6 linked regions of the Homo sapiens genome follow. The protein of the gene in region 3 purifies or fractionates together with the protein of the main gene of each other region. This does not show direct contact. Each region holds a gene or a part of one and is shown on either strand. Other genes may lie near its edges. The genes, in order: CSAG1, ZNG1A, SPANXB1, HMGCS1, PCDHB11 and BPGM.

Evidence for each region.
Region 1: the proteins of SPANXB1 (region 3) and CSAG1 purify together in Homo sapiens (tandem affinity purification; one large-scale study listed by IntAct). This does not show direct contact.
Region 2: the proteins of SPANXB1 (region 3) and ZNG1A purify together in Homo sapiens (affinity purification with mass spectrometry; one large-scale study listed by BioGRID and IntAct). This does not show direct contact.
Region 4: the proteins of SPANXB1 (region 3) and HMGCS1 purify together in Homo sapiens (affinity purification with mass spectrometry; one large-scale study listed by BioGRID and IntAct). This does not show direct contact.
Region 5: the proteins of SPANXB1 (region 3) and PCDHB11 purify together in Homo sapiens (co-immunoprecipitation; one large-scale study listed by IntAct). This does not show direct contact.
Region 6: the proteins of SPANXB1 (region 3) and BPGM purify together in Homo sapiens (affinity purification with mass spectrometry; one large-scale study listed by BioGRID and IntAct). This does not show direct contact.

The regions. Positions count from the first base shown.
Region 1 is NC_000023.11:152,726,844-152,730,780, reverse strand, and holds the end of CSAG1 (chondrosarcoma-associated gene 1 protein), read left to right. Parts: intron 1-2,556; coding exon 2,557-2,707; coding exon of another isoform or gene 2,708-2,758; intron 2,759-2,917; coding exon 2,918-2,987; 3' UTR 2,988-3,297; downstream 3,298-3,937. UniProt on the Homo sapiens protein: May play an important role in maintaining centrosome integrity during mitosis.
Region 2 is NC_000009.12:123,555-127,113, reverse strand, and holds part of ZNG1A (zinc-regulated GTPase metalloprotein activator 1A), read left to right. Parts: intron 1-3,559. UniProt on the Homo sapiens protein: Zinc chaperone that directly transfers zinc cofactor to target metalloproteins, thereby activating them.
Region 3 is NC_000023.11:141,001,229-141,004,267, forward strand, and holds SPANXB1 (sperm protein associated with the nucleus on the X chromosome B1), read left to right. Parts: upstream 1-1,365; 5' UTR 1,366-1,465; coding exon 1,466-1,555; intron 1,556-2,202; coding exon 2,203-2,424; 3' UTR 2,425-2,478; downstream 2,479-3,039.
Region 4 is NC_000005.10:43,306,714-43,310,412, reverse strand, and holds part of HMGCS1 (hydroxymethylglutaryl-CoA synthase, cytoplasmic), read left to right. Parts: intron 1-2,568; exon of another isoform or gene 2,569-2,588; 5' UTR 2,589-2,647; intron 2,648-3,699. UniProt on the Homo sapiens protein: Catalyzes the condensation of acetyl-CoA with acetoacetyl-CoA to form HMG-CoA, which is converted by HMG-CoA reductase (HMGCR) into mevalonate, a precursor for cholesterol synthesis.
Region 5 is NC_000005.10:141,198,029-141,202,460, forward strand, and holds the start of PCDHB11 (protocadherin beta-11 precursor), read left to right. Parts: upstream 1-1,598; 5' UTR 1,599-1,746; coding exon 1,747-4,140; 3' UTR 4,141-4,432. UniProt on the Homo sapiens protein: Potential calcium-dependent cell-adhesion protein. May be involved in the establishment and maintenance of specific neuronal connections in the brain.
Region 6 is NC_000007.14:134,674,168-134,677,866, reverse strand, and holds part of BPGM (bisphosphoglycerate mutase), read right to left. Parts: intron 1-3,699. UniProt on the Homo sapiens protein: Plays a major role in regulating hemoglobin oxygen affinity by controlling the levels of its allosteric effector 2,3-bisphosphoglycerate (2,3-BPG). Also exhibits mutase (EC 5.4.2.11) activity.

The sequences.
Region 1 (3,937 bases), about 12 Mb from region 3:
TTTTAGACGTTACATACATTAAGCTTCACTCTTTGTGCTGTAAAGATCTATGGGTTTTGACAAATGCCTCTTGCCATTGTCTTAGTCCGTTTGGGCTTCCATAACAAAAATAGTGTAGACTAGGTGGCTTATAAACAACACAACTTTATTTCTCACATTCTGGAGGTTGGAAAGTCCAAGATCAAGGTGCTGGCAGATTTCATGTCTGGTGGAGTCCTGCTCCCTAGTTCCTAGACACCTGCCTTTTCCCTATGTCCTCGCATGGAGGAAGGGGCAAGGGATCTCTGTGGGGACTATTTTATAAAAACACTGATCCCATTCATGAGGTCTCTGCTCTCATGAACTAGTCATTCTCCAAATACCCCACCTTCTACCTAATACCATCACCTTGGTATTTCAGCAGATGAAGTTTGTGGGAACACAAATATTCAGATGAAAGCAAGCACGGAACCACCATTACAGTATTACCATACTAGTTTCACTGCCCTGATAAATCCCCTGTGCTTGTCAGATAACCCCCTTGGCTGCCACTGATAGGTTTTTCATCTTTATAATTTTGCCTTTTCCTGAATGTCATATAAATAGACTCGTATACTATGTAGCCTTTTTAGACTCGTTTCTTTCTAGACTCGTTTCTTTAGACTCGTTTAGCATAATGAACTGAAGAGTCATGTAAAACTTTGTGCAGCTTGTAACTTATTCCTTTTCATTGAGGAGTAGTAGTATCATTGGGTGTACCATATTTTAATGCGTGTGTGTGTGTATGTGTGTATATATATATATATATAATCCATTCACCAAATGAAATACATTTTGGATGCTGCTATTTTTGGTGATTGTGAAATAAGCTATTGTATACATTCATATACAAATTTTTATGTAGACATAAGTTTTCAAATCAATTGGGTAAATTGATTGAGTATGGCTGCTGAATCTTACGCTAAGTCTATGTTCCGTTTTTTAAGAAAACGCCAAATTGTCTTCCAAAGTGGCTGTGCCATGTTGCATTTCCACGAGCTATGAATGAGAGTTTCTGTTGCTCCACATCTTCCCTGGCAATTGGTCTTGGTTTTGTTTGCTTTGTTTTGCTTTTTTATGGATTTTGGACATACTAATAGGTGTGTAGTGGTATCTCATTTTAGTACACAATTATCTAATGACAAAACACGCTTAGTACATTTATTATGCTTATTTGCCATGTGTGTATCTTCTTTTGTGTAGTGTGTGTTCAGATCTTTGACTATTTTCATTTTTTTCTATCGCTGAGCTTTAAGAATTCGCATATATTGTAGAGACAAGTTCTTTATCACATATGTGTACCGCAGATGTTTTCTGCTAGTCTGTGGCTTCTGTTTTCATTCTCTTAACATTGTCTTTTGAAGAGCACATGATGTTTATTTTAATAAAATCAACTTGGCAAATTTTTCTTTCCTTGATCATGCTTTTGGTGTTGAATTTAAAAACTCATCTCCAAACTCAAAGTTATGTGGATTTCTCTCATGTTTTCTTATAGAGGTTGTATTGTTTTTGCATTTTTCATTAGACCTATGATGTATCTTGAGTTAGTTTTCATGGAATATGTAAGGATATGTCCAGGTTATTATAATTTGTGTATAGGTGTCTAATTGTTCCGACACCTTTTGTTGGAAAACCTGTACTTTCACCATTATTGCCTTTGTTGTGAATCACCTGACTATATGTGTGCAGGTCTATTTCTGAGCTCTATTCTGTTTTATTAACCTATGTGTCTATTCTTTGCTAATGCTTATGTCCTCCACCAAATTCATATTTTGAAGCCCTCAGCCCCAGGGTGTCTGTATTTGGTGATGAGGCTTCTAAGGAAGTGATTAATGTTAAAAGAGGTCATAAGGGTGGGGCCTTGATCCCATAGAATTAGTGTGGTTATAAGAAGGGAGAAGAGACAGAAGATAGCATTTTTGTGCCTGCATGAGCTCGCTGTCTCTCTCGCGCGCTCTCTGCACATGCACAGAGGAAGGGCCAAGAATGGACATATTGAGAAAGGGCCATCTACAAGCCAGGAATAAGGCCATCACCAGAAGCCAACCCCGCCAGTCCTTGATCTGGGACTTCCAGACTTCAAAACTGTGAAAAAAGATAAATTTCTGTTGTTCCAGCTACTCAGTCAATGACATTTTGTTATTCTAGCCTGAGCTGACTAGTACATAACCTCAGGTAACACAATTTTTTTTTGTTTCCTCCTAGAAAAAAAGCCCGTAATTTTGGCATTTAAGATTGCGGTTCATTTTGAGTCACATTTTTGTACGGTGCAAGATATTTGCAGTGGCTAGTATTATGTGTCAACTTGTCTAGGCTATACTGCTCAGCTGTGTGGTCAAACAGTAGTCTAGATGTTGCTGTGAAGGTATTTTGTAGATGTGATCAACATTTACAATCAGTTGACTTTAAGTAAAGCAATTTAACTTCCATAATGTGGATAGGCCTCATCCAATTAGTTGAAGGTGTTAAAAGACCAAGGTTTCTTGGAAAAGGAATTCTACCACAAGACTAACATAATAATGTCGTGTGAGTTTCTAGCCTGCTGGCCTGCCTTCACTGTCCTGGGGGAAGCTCGGGGAGACCAGGTGGACTGGAGTAGACTGTACAGAGACACTGGTCTGGTGAAGATGTCCAGGAAACCACGAGCCTCCAGCCCATTTTCCAACAACCACCCATCAACACCAAAGAGGCGAGGAAGGGGAAAGCATCCTCTCATCCCTGGCCCAGAAGCCCTATCAAAGTGAATGGCCCACCCAAGCTCTGACTCCTACCCTGTCCTCCCCTGGCACAACCCCCACCCCAGCCTGTACCATTTCTCTATGAAACCCCTGTTCTCACCCCTCCTCCATCCTCTTCCCCAAACCAGTGCCCTCCTGTGATCTCCCTGTTGGCTTTCCAGGTTCCCAAGACAACCCAGAAGGGAAAAGGGACCCGTCAAGGAAGTTCCAGGAACAAAAGGCTCTCCCTAAAAGACCACCGCTTCAAAAAAACCTGAGGAATGGAGTGGGCCAACACTATCCAGCCACTCTGACCAGCCGAACGAGGAACTCAATCAAAATGCGCCATAGCAGGACCACAAGGGCAAGGAGACCACCGCCTTCTCCAGTGCTTCCTTGGGCAGCCAGTAATTCCCAGGCAAGGCCAGAGACTTCAAGTCTATCTGAAAAGTCTCCAGAAGTCTAACCCCAGATAAATAGCCAACAGGGTGTAGAGTACGTTTTACACCCCAAAGGGTATGCCCCATGGTGATGGAAATAAAATGAACATGTTGTAAAATGATGTGTGTGTCTGTGTGTCTCAAAGGTTGGGGGTAGGGCTTAAGGGGAAGAGGTGGGAGTGTGGGAAGGGATGGGGGGATCCTCTACAATTTCTTTAAATTCAAATTGCTCTTTGTTCTTTGGATTCCTAGGGTGAAAGTTTTGGTTATTGATTTTAGATTTCATTTTCTAATATAAACATAAAATATGCTATACATTTCCCTCAAGGAAACACTTTAGCTGAATCCCATTTTTGTATGTATATTTTTATTTTCATTCAACTTAATGTATTTTTAAAATTCTCCTGAGACTCCCTCTTTGACCCATAGGTTATTTAGGAGCATATTTTAAAATTTCCAATATTTGGGCATTTTTCAGATATCTTGGTGTTTGGTTTTGAATTTAATTATATTATGGTCTAAGAAGAGGCTTTTTATTATTTCTATTTTTTTTTTCAATTTGTAAGCTTTGTTTGATGGCCCAGAATACCATCTATCCTGGGAAATATTTCATGCACACTTGAGAGGAATGTTTATTCTGCTGTTGTTGAATGCAGTGCTTTTCTCATTATTTTAATTGGTCAGAGTAGTTAATGGTGCTTTTCAGGTCATCTATATCCTTCCTGGTTTTCTGCTTACTTTTTCTCCTAAATACTGAGAAAC
Region 2 (3,559 bases), on a different chromosome or scaffold from region 3:
AAGATAGACCATGTGATAGCCAACAAAATGAGCCTCAATAAATTTTAAGAAAATTAAAATTATATCAAGCACTCTGTCAGACCACAGTGGAATAAAACTGGAAATCAACTCCAAAAGGAACCTTCAAAACCATGCCGATACATGGAATAACCTGCTCCTGAATGATCAGTGGGTCAAAGATGAAATCAAGATGGAAATGTAACAATTCCTCAAACTGAACGACAAGAGTGACCCAACCTGTCAGCCTCTGGGACACAGCAGAGGCGGTGCTAAGAGGAAGGTTCACGGCCCTGAGCGCCTCCATCAAAAAGTCGGAAAGAGCACAGACAATCCACGGTCACACCTCAAGGAACTAGAGAAACAAGAACAAACCCAGCAGAAGAAAGGAGATCAGAGCGGAATTAAATGAAATTGAAACAAAACAACAAAAAAAATCCAAAAGATAAATGAAACAAAAAGCTGGTTCTTTGAAAAGATAAATAAAATTGATAGACCGTTAGCAAGATCAGCCAAGAAAAGAGAGAAAATCCAAATAAGCTCAATAAGAAATGAAACGGGAGATATTACAACTGACACCACAGAAATACAAAAGATATTCAAGGCTACCATGAACACCTTTACATGCATAAACTAGAAAACCTAAAATAGATGGAGAAATTCCTGGAAAGATACAACCCTCCTAGCTTAAATCAGGAAGAATTACCCTGAACAGACCAGTAACAAGCAGGGAGATTGAAATGGTAATTAAAAAATTACCAACAAAAAAATGTCCAGGACTAGACGGATTCACAACAGAATTCCACCAGATATTCAAAGAAGACTTGGTACCAGTCTTAAAGACACTATTCCACAAGAGAGAGAAAGAAGGAATCCTCCCTAAATCATTCTATGAAGCCAGTATCACCCTAATACCAAAACCAGGAAAGGACATAACCAAAGAAGAAAACTACAGACCAATATCCTTGAACATAGATGCTAAAATCCTTAAGAAAATTCTAGCTAACTGATTCCAACAACATATCAAAAAGATAATCCACCATGATCAAGGGGTTTCATACCAGGGATGCAGGGATGGTTTAACATACACATGCGCGTAGCCAAAGCAAGACTAAGCAAAAAGAACAAATCTGAAGGCATCACATTACCTGATTTCAAACTTATACTATAAGGCCATAGTCACCAAAACAGCATGGTACGGTTATAAAAATAGTCACATGGACCAATGGAACAGAATAGAGAACCCAGAAATAAATACTTACAGCCAACTGATCTTCAACAAAGCAAACAAAAACATAAAGTGGAAAAAGGATACCCTTTTCAACAAATGGTGCTGGGATAATTGGCTAGCCACATGTAGGAGAATGAAACTGGATCCTCCTCTCTCACTGTATACAAAAATCAACCCAAGATAAATTAAAGACTTAAATCTAAGACCTGAAACTATAAAAATTCTAAAAGATACCATTGGAAAAATCATTCTAGACATTGGCTTAGGCAAGGATTTCATGAACCCAAAAGCAAATGCAATAAAAACAAAGATAAATAGCTGGGACTTAATTAAACTAAAGAACTTTTGCACAGCAAAAGGAACAGTCAGCAGAGTAAACAGACAACCCACAGAGAAGGAGAAAATCTTTCATAATATATACATCTGAAAAAGAACAAATATCCAGAATCTACAATGAACTCCAACAAATCAGCAAGAAAAGCAGTCCCATCAAAAAGTGGGCTAAGGACATGAATAGACAATTCTTAAAAGAAGATATACAAATGGCCAATAAACATATGGAAAAATGCTCAACATCACTAATGATCAGGGAAATGCAAATCAAAACCACAGTGCGATACCACCTTACTTCTGCAAGAATGGCCATAATAAAAAAATCAAAAAAATAGTAGATGTTGGCATGGATGTGGTGAACACGGAACACTTCTACACTGCTGGTGGGAATGTAAACTAGTACAACCACTATGGAAAACTGTGGAGATTCCTTAAAGAACTAAAAGTAGAACTACCATTTGGTCCAGCAATCCCACTACTAGGTATCCACCCAGAGGAAAAGAAGTCATTATACGAAAAAGATACGTGCACACGCATGTTTATAGCAGCACAATTGGCAATTGCAAAAACGTGGAACCAACCCAAAGGCCCATCAATCAATGCGTGGATAAAGTAACTGTGATATATATGCATACAATGGAATACTCCTCAGCCATAAAAAGGAGTGAATTAATGGCATTCGCAGTGACCTGGATAAGATTGGAGACTATTATTCTAAGTGAAAGAACTCAGGAATGGAAAACCAAACATCGCTATGTTCTCACTCATAAGTGGGAGCTAAGCTATGAGGATGCAAAGGCATAAGAATGACACAATGAACTTTGGGGACTCAGGGAGAAAGGGTGGGAAGGGGATGAGGAATAAAAGACAAAAATTGGGTGCAGTGTATACTGCTCAGGTGATGGGTGTACCAAAATCTCACAAATCACCACTAAAGAAGTTAACCAACACCACCTGTTCCCCAGTAACCTATGGAAAGAAAGAAATGTCTCATATGTTTCTGCCTAAATTGGTCTTTAATACTTTAGCGATTCTCTTGAGTTTGGATTATAAAATAGTTTTGGTCTTTTTGTATTTTCTGCTGTAAGCCTGTATGATTATGTAATGGTGAGTAAAATTGCTAGGCCAGATATGCAGTTCTAGGAAGTTATGCAAAGATGTGCTTTAGTATATTATTTTCTACCTTTTTAAATTCATTTTGAGCTTGGCTTTTGAGCCTCTATTTTCCAAGGTGGGGTGTATGTTTTTATAATGTTATGCTTAGCCCTTGTGTATTTTCATCTCTGAGTTTGAAATTTGGGGTTATATTGGCAAAGGGAGGTTTGGGTTTTAATTAGGTGACCTGTTAGAGGAAATGTTAAGCTTCTGTTTCTTTAGGGTAGACAGTGAGAGATTTATCAAGATAAAGAAGAAAAATAAATCCTAAAGTTAATATTCAATACATGATGATGTCCCCCTTACTAAAGCCAAAGAGGGCATTATCCTATCATTCTCATCGCTAAGAACTCTTCTCCTCTTGGCACATGCTTATTCAGTTAAAGATAAGCCAAGCCTTTCTTTTGTATTTTTTTTTAAGAGAACAGATTTACTTTGGTTTTGAGTTTTATTCCTGGCTCTGGGTAGCTTATTTTTTTGACCCTTATTTTCCCCAATTTATAAAATGAAATAGTTATCTTCACTCCCCAGGATTGTTGTGAAGAGTAAGTCAAAAGATAAAATGAGGTGACTCAGGCAAAAGTACCTGGCCCTGTGTAGTGAGTACATTGTATGTGTTACATATATTCTTATTGCTGAGAATCCACGAAAGAATGAATTAAATAATGAGGACCCCTTCATCAGGGTTTTTGAGTGAGTTTTTTAAAATACAAGGTAGTAGTTTGTGTAAATACTAAATCCATTGGTACCTGTGCAGAATGTAGGAAATGGAGTTGCTAATTCCAAAAAAACAGCACATATGCTGAGGAAAGTATAATACCTAATATATATGGTTTAAGCAAT
Region 3 (3,039 bases):
TTTTTTTTTTTGAAACATTTGAGTTACTGCTTTGGTTAAATGAATGACTTATTTTACAATGACCCATGACCCTATTTCGTGATATCAAGCATTTTAAACTTTTTATCTTTGACGAACTTTCCAAAGTCAAATTCTAACTTCATTCCTCATTAATTTTTTGATATGAGTCCTCTGAAGTCCAAAAGAGACATATTGGTCTTATTTGGTATAAAAATCATACAAGAAGCATCATCAAATATAAAATGGTGTTTGACTTTCTTTGGGCTGTATTTATAGAAATGTCATTGATATGTGCTCCAAAATTATGGGAAACTCTTATACTTCTGAAATAACTTGTGTATGTTATTAATTATAACTTTTATGTTAAATTCTTGTATGCTACAGAAGTAACCAAAATTTACTTGTCAATGGTGGTTTTAATAATGGCCGTCCTGGCTGGGTGTGGTGGCTCACGCCTGTAATCCCAGCACTTTGGAGGCCAAGGCAGGTGGATCACGAGGTCAGGAGTTCAAGACCAGCTTGGCCAAGATGGTGAGACCCCGTCTCTCCTAAAAATACAAAAATTAGCCGGGCGTGGTGGCACAGGCCTGTAATCCCAGCTACTCAGGAGGCTGAGCCAGAGAATCACTTAAACCCAGGAGGCAGAGGTTGCAGTGAGCTGAGATCATGCCACTGCACTCCAGCCTGGGCAACAACAGTGAAACTCCATTTGAAAAAAAGAAAAAAATATACACCCCTGATTTGAAACAAGACTAGGATACACGGTAAAGAATGTTTATTCACTAAAGTTTTGACAGACTGAAGGCCATTATTTCAGATTGGAGATAGGAAACTTAAAAGAACTACATGGACATTGGGTAAAAGAACATGGGTTGAAATTTGCCTGGCAGTAGCCCAAAAGTAAATGGTCTTCGAGGTGCATGTGAAGGAACTGTAGGAGGGAAATGGGATAATTCACATCTCCGCCAATAAATAAATGTAGCCACACTAGCGTGGGGGATTTGAGGTGAGACATCGAAAATACTAAGTCATGGTGAGGGCTGGAAGACAAAAGAATGAATCACTTAATAGGAATGGCTGTGGGGAAGGGCTTGAAGGAATCATCCTCTGACTTCCATGTGAACCGTGAACATTAAACATGGAGAAATGAGGAGCGGCGGCAGATCGGTTTGGGATGCATCTTCAGGGGATGCTGAAACAACAACAGCATTTGGTTTGCTCTACACCCCTGTCACCCCTCGCCCGCAAGCCCAGGGAGTGGTCAGCAGTGGGGCTTTGTGACGTCGAAGCCACCCTAGGGCTGCCATTGGCTGGGACACTGCCTGTATGATCAAACAAAGCTCAAGGGTGTGGCTTTGCCTTGTCACCAGGAGGGTATGCATAGGGAGGGCAAGAGCTCTGGGCCACTGCGAAGATTCAAAAGCTCCAAAAACCTACTGTAGACATCGAAGAACCAATATATACAATGGGCCAACAATCCAGTGTCCGCAGGCTGAAGAGGAGCGTCCCCTGTGAATCCAACGAGGCCAACGAGGCCAATGAGGCCAACAAGACGGTAAGATTGTTAGGTTCTGAAGTGAAGGCGAGGGTGAAAGAAAGACACACAGAGCGGGGGCGGCTCAAACAACAACACAGGAATATTGCAGACCATTGTGGAAGTGGGGGGCCCGCTTAATGCCAGAGCCCACCGCCGCTTACAACCTGGGGTGCTTGTAGGTAGGGGTGGGAGGGGCCTGGGCAGTATGGCTTGCTGCCCGGCAGGATATTGATAAGATGTTCTTATGATCAGGTGGTTTGGCCCTTTTTCTGGTGGAATATCATTGTGGTGTTCCTTAGAACGCTGCCAAGCAAGATATGATAGGGATGTTTCTTCAGTTGGGCCTTTGTCCGCCTTGCGGACAGGTGGTTAGGCAGGATGTTTCTCACGGCCTGAACCCCCATGGGATGTTTCACTTTGACCAAGGTCTGCAAAATAGCAAAGAACTGACAAAATGGTGCAGTTTGGACTCACAGGTGACCCTACCCACGCTCCTCTTCTTCTTCCCCATAGATCCCTACTCTGTGCTTCAACCTTCTTCTTCTCTGGATCAAACCCCTTCCTCAACCTGCATTCCTTCTTCTCATGAAGCCCCCTTGCTATCCAGTCTCTATCCTGTTCACCCAAAATAATGTCCTCCTGGCCTCTCCCTGTTTTCTTAACAGATGCCGGAGACCCCAACTGGGGACTCAGACCCGCAACCTGCTCCTAAAAAAATGAAAACATCTGAGTCCTCGACCATACTAGTGGTTCGCTACAGGAGGAACGTGAAAAGAACATCTCCAGAGGAACTGCTGAATGACCACGCCCGAGAGAACAGAATCAACCCCGACCAAATGGAGGAGGAGGAATTCATAGAAATAACGACTGAAAGACCTAAAAAGTAGCAAGAAGCTACATCCCTCAAACTTCGGCAATGAAAATAAAGTTTGAGAAGCTGATGGCTGTGTATATCTCTGCCTGTTTTCTGATGGTGGGGGGTGAAGGGAAGGGAAGAGGTAGGCATTTGAGAAGGGAGGGATATGAGGTCCTGTAGGGTTGGTGGACAGACCCACAGGTTGACAGTAAGCCAGACATTGTAAATAAGGCCTGGGGGAGGACTGATTCCTAAAGAAAATTTTCTTCTTAAAATTTTATCTCACAGGAAGTGGAGATGTGTATATGTTCACGCAACTGTACCCGGCAGCACATAGTTCTGCTGAATGGACATATCAAAGGTATTCCCATCCCCTTTCCATTTGATATTTTCCTAGGTTAGAAATATATGCTTTATAAAGCGTAAATGTTCTGTAAAACACAAAGCACAATACAAAAGAAGATAGTAGATGTAGGAGTAAGTAAACGGCAGGAAAGCATTGCATGTAATGAAATGATTGAAAAGCCAAATTTTAAAACAAAATGTACACTGCATCTTAAATATTTATGTTACTGTTTTAATAACCTCAGCAGTGTTTAATCAAGATAAGCATGCTTTAGAAATGTGTTGATATCCGCAAGTGTGA
Region 4 (3,699 bases), on a different chromosome or scaffold from region 3:
ATAACTAGTTTTCCATAGAGAGTAGGCTATGTAGACTTGGGTATGAATGACCTACCTCTGTAGAAGTGCAGGTCCCTGATTAGAAAACTTATTTTCTGTGTGATTTATCGAGGAAAGCTTCCAGGAAGAGGTGACTTAGAACAGGGCCTTGAAGATGAGTAGAATCTCTGATACGCAGACCAGTAACTCTGGGAGGAGGCAGGGATGTCCATGCTTTTTACTTGGAGAACTATACCAGAGTGTACAGGTTTGAGCAAGTCTTTCTTAACATTAGTTTTTACTTGCTTGCTCCTAAGGAGGAAAGGTTGCCAACTTGTTCTTAATTTCCTAGATTTATCTCCTGTAACAATGAGAAAGATCAATAGGTAACTGTTTATATTTTATAGTTTACATACCAAAATGTGTAGGCAATGAACTTCTCCAACCACTTCTTTGAATCAAGGCTAAGGAGGGAGCCAGAAGGAAGTATTCAGAACACTGAGTAAACTCCAGAAGAAACTACCATTGCATAAATCTGGTTGGCCCTAGGCAGTCTTATCATTCTTGTGTTTTAGTCTTTGCCAGACTCAAAGTGCCTATATTTCATCCCATGAGTCTGCAAACCTGCTTTGTGGTAACCTGCCTGGCTACTTGCCATTCATTAACTGCTTCTTGACCCATGTTGATTCCCTCTGTCACTTACTCTGAAAAGACCTGTTAGAAATAAGCTTGTGATCTGCTTGAGACTTTGGCAATACTGGTTTAGCCAGAATAGAGAAATCCTTAAGTAGCACAGCAATCCTTTCTGAATCTTCTATTTGTTTCTTCTTTGTTCTCTGTGTCTCTCCCACCTAACATCCCTCTCCAATTTAAGTAATCAAAATAGAAAGAGGGGCCCAGGCAAGGTGGCCCACGCCTATAATCCCAGCACTTTGGGAGGCCAAAGTGGGTGGATTGGTTTAGCCCAGGAGTTGGAGAACAGCCTGGGAAAGATGGCAAAACCCCATCTCTACAAAAAATACAAAAATCAGCTGTGTATTGTGGCATGTGCCTGTAGTCCCAGCTACTTGCGGGGTCTGAGACAGGAGGATCACTTGAGCCTGGGAGGTCGAGGTTACAGTGAGCAGTGACTGGAATGCTACTGCATTCCAGTCTGGGTGACAGAGGGAGACCCTGTCTCAAAAAAAAAAAAAAATTTGAGGGAATATAGGCAGTGCAAGGAAAGGCAGAATATAGGCAGTTCAAGGAAAATTTCCTTGATACAAGTAGTGTCAAATGCATATACATACATGAACATCAAGAAGAAATATTATTATTTAAGTAGTCTTAACATGGAGAAGGAATCTTGTTTTTCAAGAACTGGTCTCTGTGGTCTGCTTAATTTGCAGAAGACAAAGGCATAATTTGAGATAATAAAGAACAAAGATAGGTTATTTTCTCAAAGTATGTATAATTACAGTTAATTAGAGACATTTTTGGAATATTGTAGTATTCTTTGCCTACAAAACTCAAGATCTATTTCTTTTTATGGGGCAGGGGGGCGTAGGTGGGTAGTAAACTTAGTTAATGAAGTAAAAGGCGCTACGACTGAAGAGCTCTTAAATTATGTAATTATGTAAAAAAAGTAAAGCTTTATTAAATATTAATAACATCCGAATGTAGTTACCAGTGAATCCATTAAGGGCAGATGCTAAATTTGCCAGTAATTAAATAGAGAGCAGAGGAAATGGTGTATGCTGTGTTAAACATAGAAGTTGCCATCTCAAGTAACAATCAGTCTTTCAAAACAGATGGACTGAAGAATATGTTCCAGTCACCTTCGCAAATTATTTCTACTTAATTTACATAATAATGTTTAATGCTCCTTTGTCTAAATGCTTAATTTTTTAACATAAGCAGTAAGAGGGAAAATCACTTTATAAAAGGTTGGGAGGGTGAAGGTGGCAGTGTTGAAAATGATTAGGTCTTGCTAGAAAAAATACCTTTATTTTCTTTGAAAAACACTTATAAGAACTATAAGAACTAAGGTAATAGTCAGTGTATTGGTGCTTTGTGTTACAAAGTGTCTTCACATATTTTATCATCTCAGCAATCCTTCACAATGATCTGGGGAGGGCAACTGTATTAGCTTCATTTTATAGATGAGGAAACTGAGGTCCAGAATTGCTGCCAAAGCCACAATCTGTTACATGCAGTGCAGGCTCTTGACTGCATATATCTCTTTACTCTAGAAATTTGCTAACTCATTACAACTTGTTTATATTCCTTTCCCCCAATTCTTGAAAACCTTGGTTTAAAGCCTCAATTGGTGACATGGGCTTCTTATTTCCTTGAGGTTTTTTTGTTTATTCCTTCCTGCAATAGTAGGCTTCTTATATCCGTTTATTACCAGGACTGAACCTTTCACTATAAGGGCTATGAAAATAAGGGGGAAAATGTTCTATAAGCTTTAAGTATGATTTTTTCTAAGCAAATGTCAAATTCTATTCTGCATAATGTAATTGGATAAGGAATTGCTTATTTTAACTCACTTTGAATTGGATTCATTAGTATTTGAATTTGGGTAGTGATTTATAACTTTAAAAGCAGTTCTTGTTTGAAATTCCTAGTGCCCGAAGGAGGAAACAGTGACAGACCTGGAGACTGCAGTTCTCTATCCTTCACACAGGTATGACATCCTGTCATGCTGCTTAAGGAAAGTATTCCTCTCTAATGGAAGGAGGAAACTTGGTATCCTAGAGAAAATAACGATTTGTTTGTGCCATATGTTCTTAAAACCCCTTTTAGGGTTCTACCTCATCTTTAAAATTCTGTTAATGCTTTAATGCTTCAGGAAACTAATTTTATGTTTATTAGACTAATGTTTAAAATCTAGAAACAAATTTTAAAAATTAGTGTTCACTCATAAGAGAAAAAGTACTTATAATAAAATGTAATTACATGGACTACTTAATCAGAAACAATCAGAGGTAAACATGACTGCCATTAGTGCTTTTTAAATTATGGCCTCAAAAGATATGTATCTGGGCTGTGGATGAATGTTTAAAATTATGTAAGAATGGGCCAGGCACAGTGGCTCACGTCTGTAATCCCACCACTTTGGGAGGCTGTGGCGGGTGGATCACCTGAGGTCAGGAATTTGAGACCAGCCTGGCCAACATGGTAAAACCCAGTCTCTACTAAAAATACAAAAAAATTAGCCAGGCTTGGTGGCAGGTGCCTGTAAGTCAAGCAGCTCAGGAGGCTGAGGCAAGAGAATCGCTTGAACCCAGAAGTCGGAGGTTGCAGTGAGCTGAGATTGCGCCACTGCACTCCAGCCTGGGCAACAGAGTGGGACTCTGTCTCAAAAAAAAAAAAAAAAAAAAATTATGTGAGAATGGACAGTAATTTCAAATGTGTTTCAACTGGTAATCTAATTATTTGCAGCCATTGCTTTCTCATATTGTCAGGGAGTGCTTCTCTTACAATTCTGCTTTTTTTGTATTTCAAGATTATGATTTCCTATGGGTGTTAATGACTTTAGATTAGAAGTCTAGTACCATTTCATTTATTCAACATTAGCATCTACCATATGCCAAACAGTGGGTTGGGTACCGGGGACACAAAAATGAACAAAGCACGGTTCCTGCTCTCCAAAAGCTCCTTGTTTAATGCAGAGAGGCTAAGCCTAAATAATAGAGGAGAAACTTGGCAGTTTGAAATATAAATTGAATTTTCCTT
Region 5 (4,432 bases), on a different chromosome or scaffold from region 3:
ATTCAACTATCCTACATACATACTTTCAACTAATAACTTCTTTTTTAAGCCCTTACTTGACTTCAGCCTTCTTATACACCTGGTTCCTCCAAGTCTGGTACCTACTAGGATTGTGTAGGGAAAACCCAGTAGTTTATTTTTAGTATCTCCAATGAAGGAACTTTATTTTAGACATTTCTTGGAACTATTGTCAATTGCTCTTTCATCTGCTTTCTATCATCAAATAATTTGTGTATTTACTTATGTATTCTTAGTCTTTGTGAATTCATACCTTTTATTACTTTTCTGTCATTTTAGAGAGGGGTTAAGAAGAAGGAAGGATAATTGTATAGTCAATCCACATACTATTCAATTTCTACTCTTCTGCACTGATAATTTTTCAACCATGTATCTAGTTCACATTTTTGTGAATGTAATTTGAAATTAGAATTTTTAAAAGCAGACTTCTTAGATGTCCTCCATTATTGAGAGTACTTTGAGATGTCTAACAGTGGATACCATTGGTAGTTTCCAAGCACCTATTCCAACTATCTCCCTCATTATGCCATGCACTTTGGCTAGGACTGAAACCACCTCAAGTTTAAGGGGCAATCTCTGCCTGGATTAAAACAAAGGGTCAAAGATGGAGTCTTTAGATTCTGGGACTATAATCTCTACCTTTAATCCTATACATCTTGAGACACTGATTTCTTCAGTAACAGGCTGAAGTGCTCTCAGTTGGTCTAATCAGAATGAAGGCTAAGATTTTGTTCTATTATTGAGGAAGAAAATATCTCTCATTCTGTCTTCTTGAGCTGAAAAACAAAGCAGATAGCCATAGATGTTGCTGGAATAAATCTTGGGAAACTGAGGGAGGGCAGTCTTAGAAATAAGCCTGCTTTAAATGAAACTAACATGCTTGTGCTTGTGTATTTATTATTTTTTGAGAAGCTGGAACTAAATCAAGGATTCTCATAATGTGTTCTACTCCCAATATCTTACTTTACTTTCTAGCAGTTCACAATTCCTTGCTACCAAGGAAATCTATATAAATGCCTTCTTGTGCTATCATAACTATCAAAGTATGTCCCATCTCATGGTTAATCCAGTTTCATATCCTCTGAGAGGACTTCTAAAATGACCCATGTATAGTTTGCCTTTTCATTACCACCTAAGGAAAGTCAAGTAGTGATAGAATTTTGTACAGCTTAAAAATATTATGGTTGTTTTATGTTTCCAGTCTTCTCAGAAAGATTACAAACCACTGGGAGCCAGGAATCACATCTTGTATTTCTGTATTCACCACAACTAAGCACGTTTGGTTGTATGGAGAAGGGGGAAAGATAAATGCTTTAAGATGAATATTAACAGCATATCAAACTAAAGAGAATATGAAATAATTATTACAGAACGTGCAATATATTTGTAATCACTTGAACACAATGAATAAAACAATATTTGTTTCCGGAGGACATATAAGTGAATGGAATTTAGGTAGCTTTCACCAAACTGTGAAAATCTATGGAGACACTTGGTGGCGCTGCAGGATAACATCGTGAAAAATATATTCACTGGATGGCGTTGTGAACACTGATATCCAGTGCACACAGAGAATCAGAAGACAGAAACAACAAGCCTTCAAGAGGGTGACCTGGAAACCATTCAACAGGGTTAAAATCCTTAGACCACAGAGGATTTGGTGGACAAGTCAGAGACGCGTTCCGCAGAGCTGAAGCCTTTCTTCAAGAAGCCTACAAGAAAGGAACTATGGAGAACCAAGGGACACGCACTCAGCAGATAAGGCAAGTCCTGCTTCTCTTTGTTTTGCTCGGAATGTCTCAGGCGGGCTCTGAAACCTGGAGCTTTTCTGTGGCAGAAGAAATGCAGAGCGGGAGTTTTGTAGGCAATCTGGCAAAGGACCTGGGGCTGAAGGTGAGAGAACTGTCCTCACGGGGGGCTCGGGTGGTCTCTAATGATAAGAAACAGCGTTTGCAGCTGGACATAAACACTGGGGATTTGCTCTTAAGTGAAACACTAGACAGGGAGGAGCTCTGCGGTTCCATCGAGCCTTGCGTGCTACATTTGCAGGTGTTAATGCAAAACCCCACGCAGTTTTTACAAATTGAGCTTCAGGTCAGGGATATAAATGATCACTCTCCCATCTTCTCGGAAAAACAAATGCTCCTAGAAATCCCAGAGAACAGTCCCGTTGGTGCTGTGTTCTTACTAGAAAGTGCGAAGGATTTAGATGTAGGAATCAATGCTGTAAAAAGCTACACAATAAGCCCCAACTCTCATTTTCACATTAAAATGAGAGTCATTCCAGACAATAGGAAATACCCCGAGTTAGTTCTGGACAAGGCGCTGGATTATGAAGAGCTCCCGGAGCTCAGTTTCATCCTCTCTGCTCTGGATGGTGGGTCCCCTCCCAGGTCTGGAACTGCCTTGGTCAGGGTGGTGGTTGTGGACATTAATGACAACTCCCCTGAATTTGAGCAGGCTTTTTATGAGGTGAAGATTCGGGAGAATAGCATCCTTGGCTCGCTGATTTTGATTGTCTCAGCTTGGGATTTAGACTCTGGAACAAATGGTGAAATATGCTATACCTTTTCCCATGCCTCAGAAGATATTCGCAAGACATTTGAAATTAATCAAAAGTCTGGAGAAATTACTTTAAGAGCACCTCTGGATTTTGAAACGATTGAGTCATACTCAATAATCATTCAAGCCACAGATGGGGGAGGACTTTTTGGAAAATCTACAGTCATAATTCACGTGATAGATGTAAATGACAATGCTCCTGAAATCACTGTGTCATCAATTACCAGTCCAATCCCAGAAAATACGCCAGAGACCGTGGTTATGGTTTTTAGTATCCAAGATATAGACTCTGGGGACAACGGAAGAATTGTTTGTTCCATTCCGGAAGACCTCCCATTCGTGCTAAAATCTTCAGTTGAGAATTACTACACGTTGGAAACAGAGAGACCACTGGACAGAGAGAGCACAGCCGAGTACAATATCACCATCACCGTCACCGACTTGGGGATACCCAGGCTGAAAACCGAGCACAACACAACTGTGTTGGTCTCTGACGTCAATGACAACGCCCCCACCTTCACCCAAACCTCCTACACCCTGTTCGTCCGCGAGAACAACAGCCCCGCCCTGCACATCGGCAGTGTCAGCGCTACAGACAGAGACTCAGGCACCAACGCCCAGGTCAACTACTCGCTACTCCCGCCCCAGGACCTGCACCTGCCCCTCGCCTCCCTGGTCTCCATCAACACAGACAACGGCCACCTGTTCGCCCTCAGGTCGCTGGACTACGAGGCCCTGCAGGCTTTCGACTTCCGCGTGGGCGCCACAGACCGCGGCTCCCCGGCTTTGAGCAGCGAGGCGCTGGTGCGCGTGCTGGTGCTGGACGCCAACGACAACTCGCCCTTCGTGCTGTACCCGCTGCAGAACGGCTCCGCGCCCTGCACCGAGCTGGTGCCCCGGGCGGCCGAGCCGGGCTACCTGGTGACCAAGGTGGTGGCGGTGGACGGCGACTCGGGCCAGAACGCCTGGCTGTCGTACCAGCTGCTCAAGGCCACGGAGCCCGGGCTATTCGGCGTGTGGGCGCACAATGGCGAGGTGCGCACCGCCAGGCTGCTGAGCGAGCGCGACGCGGCCAAGCACAGGCTGGTGGTGCTGGTCAAGGACAATGGCGAGCCTCCGCGCTCGGCCACCGCCACGCTGCAAGTGCTCCTGGTGGACGGCTTCTCCCAGCCCTACCTGCCGCTCCCTGAGGCGGCACCGGCCCAGGCCCAGGCCGACTCGCTCACCGTCTACTTGGTGGTGGCGTTGGCCTCGGTGTCTTCGCTCTTCCTCTTCTCGGTGCTCCTGTTCGTGGCGGTGCGGCTGTGCAGGAGGAGCAGGGCGGCCTCGGTGGGAAGCTGCTCGGTGCCTAAGGGCCCCTTTCCAGGGCATCTGGTGGACGTGAGCGGCACCGGGACCCTTTCCCAGAGCTACCAGTACGAGGTGTGTCTGACGGGAGGTTCCGAGACAAATGAATTCAAGTTCCTAAAACCGGTTATCCCTAATATCCAGGCAAAAGGTCTTGGGAAGAATAGTGAAGAAAACTCCACCTTTCGAAATAGCTTTGGATTTAATTTTTAGTAAGAATGCTATTTACATTTGCATGTACTTTTTTAGTTTTATGTAACCATATCAATATTATTTAGTCTTAAACTAGTTACGTTATTATGCAATACGACTAATTGTATTTTTAATTTTTTCTTTTCTCCCCCAATTTTTTTTTTTTTTTTGAGACCGAGTCTCATTCTGTCGCCCTGGCTGGAGTGCAATGGTGTGATCTCAGCTCACTGCACCCTCCGCCTCTCGGGTTCAAGCAATTCTCCTGCATCAGCCTCCCGAGTAGCTGGCATTACAGGCGCCCACCACCACGCTC
Region 6 (3,699 bases), on a different chromosome or scaffold from region 3:
GTAACTCCTCTCAAGTTTCTGAGTTCAAAGTGAGCAAAGGGAAGGCATGAGAAAGAGATGAAGTTCAGCAAGCTAAAAGACAACTGAAAGTATTCAAATTATCTACTTTAAAAACACTCCTTTATTAATCACATAGACTTCTAAATTCTAACTATATGCTTCCTGTTCTATATTAACAGAAAGGACCTAGGTGAAACAAGTTCAGGGGAGTCCAAGGGTTTGTCTTTACTTGAGAGTGGCAGAATAAGTTGTTATTGGTTAGTAATCAATGCACCTTTTCATTTTAATTAGCCATTGATCCTAACTGTGAGCACCAGCCAAACAGTCACAGAATCGTAGCACTGGATGCTTACTGCTGGGGTGGCTCTTTATTAGAATTTCACGTCAAGGCCTAGAAGAGCTCCCTAATAACTCTTATACACAAACTATCCATACTCAAACAACTATGAAAAATGGAAAGGATCTTAACTCAGAAGACACAGTCTCTTCCAAGTAAGTGTACTGTCCCATCACCTGCCCTGCCAGTACCCCTTCAATGTAATACAGAATTTTAGGCAAGTAACTTCTCTGGACCTCCAATTCTCCTGTCAATTAAAAAAGAAAGAAAGAAAGAAAAGAAACACACACTCTTCCTTTGCCAGCATTTTAAAGGGTTGTGGGATAAAAGGGGTGGCTTAAAAGAGAACATACATGAACAAAGGGTAGCACAATAAGTGTCTCTTCTTTCTCTATTAGGAATTCCCTTCTAGGTAGCAGATTTAATGGGAAGGCTACTAAGATACTCCTTTGCCCTGCCAAGCCCCACCCTCACACTGCAACCTTAGAGAAGATTACCATCACAAACTACAGCTGCTGAGAACAAATCTACTCAGACCAGACCTCTAGCTGTTTAGCAGGGAGATGACTACTCTAGATTCTAAACACCTTCTGGCTTCAACAGGCCAGAAATGTCAGCTAGCCGCACAACAGCCACCACAAACATCCCTTGGAAAGAGCAGGAGGGGAAGTCAACAGCCTGTTGTTTGGAGTCAGGTGACCACTGAGCCTTTCAAATCCAACAGTGCTCACTCCCAAATCCAGGGGAAGCTCTGGAGGTCTCCAAACCTAACTCATTCACTAACTAGTAACTGAGGGCCCTTTATATTCCTAGTACTCTGTGGAAGAACATGTGTGAGTGACCTTGGCCAAGATTTTACCTCCAATGAACTATTTTTTCATTTATAAAATAAGTCCCTCTAGCACCAACATTCCTGTATTTTATTCTTAATGGTTAAGAAAAGCAGAGGCACCTTAGAGACACAAGAGCATGAGTACACTGAGTACTGTTTACATTCATCTACTGTGCAAGGACCATGCTTTATCTGTTTCCAGAGTCTGTAAGCATATTGCTCACTAAATTGGAGAGAAAAATGGATTTTATAGATTTCTCCAAATAATCTAAATTTTCACTATAAAAAATTAATTTGTTAAAAGATAACAAAAGTGACCATGTTTGACTAAAGCTTACCAGAAGTAGAAACTATGAGTGTATATATCTATCAGCATCTTGGATTCACCACTCATAGATGTGTGCCTTTGCAGTGTCACCAACTATTAATCTTAAGTTCTTGAACCTAGGACTTTATTGTAGAATGACTGAACATTCTACTTCTATTCAACATTGTATTTAAGATCCTAGCTAGGGCAACTAGGCAAGACAATGAAATAAAAGGCACCCAGATTGGAAAGGAAGAAGTAAAACTATCTCTATTTGCAGATGGTATGATCCCACCAAAAACCTGTTAGAACTAATAAACTCAGCAAGGCTGCAGATATAAGAACAATACAGAAAAGGAAATTGGGTTTTTAATACAGTAGCAATAAGCAACATGAAAGATTAAGCAAACAATTCTATTTATAATAACATCAAAAAGAATAAAATGCTAAAAATAAATTTAACCTAAGAAGTACAAAACTATACTCTGACTACTACAACACAGTGTTCAAATGAAAGAAAACCTAAATATGTATTTATGGATTAGAAGACATAACACTGTTAAGAGGGCAATATTTCCTAAATTAACATACAGATTCAATACAATCCTATCAAAAATCTCAATGGACTTTTTTGTATAAATTGACAAACTGATCTTAAAGTTCATATGGAAATCTAAGGTACTCAGAATAGCCAAAACAATCTTGAAAAAGAAGAAATAAACCAAGGGACTCATAGTTCCTGATTTCAAAACTTACTACAAAGCTATAGTAATCAAGATACACACAGATCAATGAAATAGAATTGGGAACCCAAAATAAACCCTCATATTTTTTATCAATTGATTTCCAACAAGTGTGCCAAGACAATGAAATGCAGAAACAATAATCTTTTCAACAAATAGTACTGGGATAACTGTATATCCATATGTGAAAGAATGAAGTTGGACCCCTGACTCATACTTTATATAAAAATTAACTCAAAATGAATCAAAGACTTAGAGTCAAGAGCTAAAATTGTAAAAATTTTTAGAAAAAAAGCCATAGGAGTAAAGTCTTCATCACCTTGAGTTAATTAATGGTTTCTCAGATATGACACCAAAAGCATACACAAGAAAAAAATAAACTGGGTATATAAAAATTAAAAATGTTTGTGCTTCAAAGGACACTATTAAGAACATAAAAAGGCAACCCAGAGAATGGGAGAAAAATTTGTATATCATATATAGTCTAGATACAAGTTCCTTATCAGATATAAGAACTGTCTCCAATAATAAAAAGACAAATGATCAAATTTAAAAATGGGCAAAAGGTTTAAACAGCCATTTCTCCAAAGATATACAAAAGGTCAATAAGTACATAAAAATAGGCTTAATATTACTAGCTATCAAGGAAATGCAAATCAAAACCACAATGAGATACTACTTTGTACCCTCTAGGATGGCAACAATAAAAAGTCAGATTATAAACAAGTGTGAATAAGGATGTGGAGAAACTGGAATCATAATACACTGTAAAATCAGGTATGCAAAAGGCTATAGCCTCTTTCGAAAACAGTCTGGCAATTCCTTTTGTTAAACACAGATCTACCATATGACCCAGCAATTCCACTACTAAGCATATACCCAAGAGAAGTGAAATATGAGTCTATACAAAACTTGTACACAAACCTTCATAGCAGCATTACTCATAATAGTCAAAAAGTGAACACAACACAAATGTCCATTAACTAATGAACAGATAAATTAAATGTGGTATATCCATACAATAGAATATTATTTGGCAATGAAAAGGAATGAAGTACTGAACCAAACCACAACAAGGTTCTTGGATGAATCTTGAAAGCATGATGCTACTAAATAAAAGAAGCCAGTCACAAAGGACCACTTACTGCATAAGTCCATTTACATGAAATGTCCACAACAGGTGAATCTATAGTGACACAAAGTAGATTAGTTGTTGCCCAGGGCTGGGTGGAATAGGGGAGGAACTGGGGGGGTGATAACAGCTAAGGGGCACTGGGTTTCTTTTTAGGGTAGTGAAAATGTTCCAACATTGATTGTGGTAATGGATTTACAATTTTGTGAATACACTAAAAGCCATTTAATTGTATACTTTAAATGGCGAATTGCATAGTATGTGAATTATAACGCAATAAAGATGTTAAAAAATAGTAAACAGGGCTGGGCGCAGTGGCTCATGCCTCTAATCTCAGCACTTTGGGAG